2 separate regions of the Homo sapiens genome follow, and region 1 is linked to region 2. Evidence: fine-mapped expression QTL. Tissue or cell type: whole blood. Region 2 holds a variant in brackets; the other region holds the start of a gene. All regions are shown on one strand. Distances are between the middles of the regions.

Region 1 (2,619 bases), 200 kb before region 2:
TATATTTTATCACATAAAATACAGTTTTTTACGATAAGTGCCTTTATATACATTTGAAATTAACTTTGACAGCTGAATCTTTTTCAACACTACTCTTGAATATTACCTTTATGTAGTATTACCTGTGTTACTGCTTCAGTACTAAGAAAATGAGACCATTTTCTCTGACATTACATAAGCCCGACAGCAGACGAGAGAAACGCTGCCTATCTGGGGTGAAAGCTAGCTCCCTCTGAAGCTACCATTTGACACGTTAAAACAATTCTCGAGTTGATTGAATCATTCCAAATTACCAATATTTGACCATTTCAACCTTCAAAAATGGAAATTTCACTTTAACTCATACAGCCAGATATACCTAGACAAGCTTTAAAAACACATAAAAAAATTTCCTTTAACATTATTACTCAGAAGTTGATTACAGTCAACTATATAGAAAGGAAAATCTTAACGCTTCCATACACCCTGAAAATTTATGAACTTTTGCTCCATCTGCTTAAACCTATATTGCATCCTCGTTTTTAGTTTTTATTTTTTAAAGATTGTTTTAAAAAGGTGCACCAATCAAAAGATAATTAATGGTCTTGGTCTTTGTTCTATCAGATGTCCATGCAAAGATATGGATAATGGTTCCATCACCAAATTTTTAACTAACTCCAAATATTGTATTTGTGGCTCACACTAGGGATCCCTTGACCCAGCTCGGCAAGTGTGAAATCACGAAATAAATGAAGGTTAACAAAGACTGGTCTAAGGAATAGTTCACTACAATACCGCAATGCTCTTCTCACTAATACTCGACTCTGCATTTCGGTACTTATATCTGAAAGATTTGCAAATAATGACAACATTCGTGCCAGACATTACTGCAAGTGAGGAACAGACTAAAGGAGAGGAAGGAACAAAATGCCTTCCAAGAGAGAAACATTCATTAGCCTTACTGGCAAGTGTCTAAAGCAAACAAGGAAACTGCAAAATAATTACTTAGTTACAAATAAACGCTTTTAGCACAGTACCTTTTTGTGTCTGTCCCTCTTCCATATTCTCTTCCATGGCTACCTTTCTTCAGTAGAATCTGGTACACGGAATTAATCAAAAGCTCAATTAGATGTTGGAAAAACTGGGGGTTTTTTTTTTTTTTTTTTTTTTTTTTTTTTTTTTTTTTTCCTGGGAAGCTCCAACAGCAGTGGCTTGGGCAAGTCCTCAGAGCTTAGCTCAGGCTCCCTCGTTCCTCTTGTTTGCTTGGAGACAGGCTGTCAAGTGTAATTTCATTCAAATTACTCTTCCGTGAAGATTATCAATTTTTCTTCTCAAAGCTGCCCATTGTGTACCACTGTAAGCAGGTATTCAAACAAATAGCCTGAGAATTTTGGGGGGAAATTTGGTCTGAATCCCAGGAGCAGAGACACTATGATTCACAAGTCTTGCTTTGCATTTAAAATGGGGAAAAGAAATTGAGGTTTGTATTGAAATCTGGGCTTTAAATTGGAAACAGGCTGAGCTGTGAACAGATGGAGGGGTGTCCTCCTAACATGAAGCCGACCACCAACCCGTAATTCCCCCCTTCATTCCAGAGTGGGAAAGCCCAGATTCCCGTCGGTTCTTTATGCTGCAGCAGTGGCTTCTCACCCAGTCAGATACGTTGCAAAAAAACTGTGTTTTCCTTTTCTCTCCTCACTAAGTATTTAGTTAATTTGATTTAAGGTGCCAAGAAAGGATGCAGTTATACCATCTCAGGGTTTATCTGCAAAAGTTTATTACTAAGACAGGACTTGTAATCCCACACCTTTGAGATTTAAAAAGAAATAGAAGCGTGGCTGTCAAAGGAGTGAGTATAAAGCTCTAAGCCTGAGAGATACATGTTTTAAGTAATTATTTTACTTAGTGCCATATGACTCTTAAGTAAAAGGGAGAAAACCACTGGAAGGAAAAACCCTATTGATGTCTTTGTTATTTATTGTTATGATTATAGCCCACGAAAGCTGCTGGTTTCCAATGAGAATCTCTTGAAAGGGAATTTCTTTAAAGGTCAGTGTTAGGGAATGAGAAGAGTGATGTAAGGGAGGAACAAATTTTAGATAAGAAACAAGAGGATAGCAATTTATAATGGGAATCTGCAAGCTGATTTGGAATGCAAATCACAATGCTGCAGTCTGGCGATAATTAGCATTTGTACTTCAGCCTACTGAGTGACAGGGCACAGTCCAAGAGTCTCAATACTTCACAAAAGGTATAGCAAGAAAATAAACAGTATCTCTTTCAAGGAGCATAAACCTTTCCTAGAGTAGAAAGAAAGGATCCTTGCCTCTGTCTTCATCTCCAAATCAGCCAGCACACACACACACAGGGACAGAAACACACACAGAGGGACAGAAAGACACACACAAGCACACACACGGAGAGGCACACACACACACAAGGACACACACACAGACATAACTGTAACTCTCTGCCTTTAATGAAAAATAGCTCACATCCTCATTATCCATAGCATACGTTTCTTGCATTATAGCTTGTATTTCACATGCATTCTTTAAAGCAGGCCAGTAGCATGCTGCACATCACCCTCTAAATATTACAAAAGCAGCTATTTAGAGGAAACACAATTACTGCATTCCA
Region 2 (2,764 bases):
TACCTAGTAAAGACAGCATGAGTCAAACTCTCCCTGCTACTTCTTATTTTTTGCAGTTTATTCAAAAGGTGAACAAAAATCTTCCATTATACTATCTCTTGCCAATACTACACGAAAATCATATTCAAAAGAGAAAACTAAAATATATCTTTGCATCAGCATTGTTAATGTTAGAGCTAATTTAATAAAATACTATAAATAGTTCCATTTAATCTCAATCAGTTTTGACCACATAAGATTTGTATAAAACTTTTATAACAAAAATTTTTTCATTCTTTTTCTTTCCCCAACTTTCTATATCCATTTAGTTTTATCTATTATTTTTTCCCTTCAATTTTAAATAACATTTATATGGCCTCTGAACTAGACAAAAATTAATTTACCTTTTCTTTAACAAAACCACATTCTCACACCTTTGTTATAACCTTCCCCACCCAAAACACATTGAACTTTCCTTATACATTTTTCATACAGAAATGTTTCTCACATCTGGTAGTTTTAATTTTATATACTAATTACAATGTTAACTCTTAGTAACCCTAATTTTCAGGGAAAAACCTTAGAAGTTAGCAATTTTAATTGTTATATACCAGACACAGTGCCCAGGACCTTTCAAGACAATTCCTGGTGAATCCAACTTCTTTCAAGGAGGAAAGACCTTTCCAGACAATGTCTAATGAATCCAACTCCTCCCTGCATGGCCATGAGGCACAGCTGGGTCCGGTAGGATGGGGTTCAAGTGCTGTGCCCTAGCCCTCACTGTGACCAAGTGTCTAAACCCTAGAATCTAAAGACTCAAAACCAAAGAAATAAGCTCGCAGACAAATTAAGCAAGTATCAAATATATCACAGAAGAAACCATTTTTTGGCCTTAAAAACATGTAGAAGAGACAGTATAAATTTGTCTGTCCAATAGATCCAGGCAAAAATGTGTGAATTATATGTAATACCTACAATTCTGAAGACATTCTAATTGTATTTTACTAACAGTTTTTAAGCCAGTTTTATTTACCAAAGATTTCTCATGTCACATGACCTTGAAAAGCACTGGGATTTAATCTAGGCATGAGTGACTATGGGTCATTGAATGAGCATTTTATGTTCCAGCCAAATATCATTTCTACATTGCCAATGATTTTTAATTCACTGAGGGAGAATGTTCAATAAGAGGAAAGGAACACTGACAATGGAGAATGGGAACACACAAACATTTAATAACTGTGGACAAAAGGAGTTCATGCAGAGGAGTGCAAAAAATAATCTTAGGCTAGGAAAAGAATCCAGAGAAAGTCCTGTAGAGAACGTTTCAACAAGAAAGAAGTGTCAACTAGATAAAACAGAAAGAGCGAAGAAGACGAGGACTGGCAAGTTCCCTTCGGATTGGTGGTTATGAAGTCACTGGTGAAACAGTAGCAAGAGTATTATGGAAAAGTGAAGAGCAGAGAGA[T/A]AAAGAATAAGGAAACGGGTGGTAGAAAAAGAGTGTGGACAACCTATTTACAGTTCACAGTGAAGGAAGGCAGAGTGGGCAATAAGTGTCAGAGAAAGTTTATTTATGAAAGAAAAAGAACTGTATGTTTCATATGTTAATGCATATATAGGTTTCAATCTTAGAGATCTACTTCTTAGAGTAGAATGAAGAGATACTATCTGGAACACAGGAGGAGGAATAAGCCAGAGAGAACAGGCAAAATTGCCTAATCCTCTGAGATAGAAAAAGAAGTAGAGAAAGTGAGTGTAAAGAAAAAAGAAGAAAGATTTTTATTTCAGTATGGAGCTTTGGAGCAGAGGGCTGATAACCTCAGGACCTCATGGAGGCCTGATAACCTCAGTATTCCGTAGGTATGTACTAGGAAGGAGATGTGCTGAGAGAGAACAAATTGGGGCTGCAGCTCCACTTAAGAAAATTAATGAAGTTTGTTACAGCTGCTGTAGTGAAGAGGAGAGGGAGGTGACCACGGTATAATAAAGAAACATCAAGTAACATTGAAGTCCAAGCAGAGACTGAATCTAAATTTATAGAGACACCAATCTATAACTTGACTATAGGAGAGGATAAAACAGAAAGCTGAATTTAAAGAAAACTGAGAGCATTTGTGAGTGTAATGGTAGAGCGGTAGGAAGAAGAAGGAGGTAAGGCTGATGGCAAAAACTACAAAATGAGTTAATTCATCTTGGGTCTAAATTAGAACAGGAAGAAAGAAGACCCCAGGACAGTAGCTATGGACTGTGAGAGAAGAAGGGGACACAGTACTGAAAAGATAAAGGAAGTTTAAGAGCAGATTTGGCGTAAATAAAGCTTGAAAGATGGGGATAGACAGAAGTTGTTGTTCAGCTATTGCTGTATTAGACCTTAATATTTCAGAGGCTGAGAAATTTGGAGTGCAGAGAGATCCAGGGAAAGACTAAAGATTAGGTTTGTAAAGTTCAGCAGAAGTGACAGTTCCTGCTATTGAGGCAAGTCTTTGAAGACAGGTGCTGGAAGAATTATTAATAAGGATACTACAGTACACCACAGTGATTATATGGATTGCAAAGAAAGAAAAAAATGTCAAAGTCCAATTTAAATAAGATAATGCATTAGAAAGGCTGAAAATTTTAAACAGTTATAAAAATGTTAGCTGCAACTATGAAAATTGCTGAAGGGAATAAATGAAAACAGTCGATGTATACCATAAATATGAAGCATAAATTTTCATAATTTATATACGAGTAAGGACCAAGAGGAAACCATGGATCCTTGAGCAGGGTAACCAATGATAAAAAA

Evidence for each region. PIP is the estimated chance that this variant, and not a neighbour inherited with it, causes the effect.
Region 1: it holds the start of GPM6A, and the variant in region 2 is fine-mapped to the expression of GPM6A in whole blood (INTERVAL, PIP above 0.99).

What each region holds. Positions count from the first base shown.
Region 1 is chr4:175,811,175-175,813,793 of GRCh38, forward strand. It overlaps GPM6A (glycoprotein M6A), which reads right to left and starts at 1,090. Exons shown (of 7, transcript NM_201591.3): 1 at 1,017-1,090. The coding sequence starts at 1,053. It overlaps GPM6A-DT (GPM6A divergent transcript), which reads left to right. Exons shown (of 8, transcript NR_125901.1): 8 at 686-1,015.
Region 2 is chr4:176,008,618-176,011,381 of GRCh38, forward strand. No RefSeq gene overlaps it. Among named protein-coding and RNA genes, the nearest start is that of WDR17, 56 kb to the right of the region's middle. The variant T/A (reference allele first, on the strand shown) is at 1,448.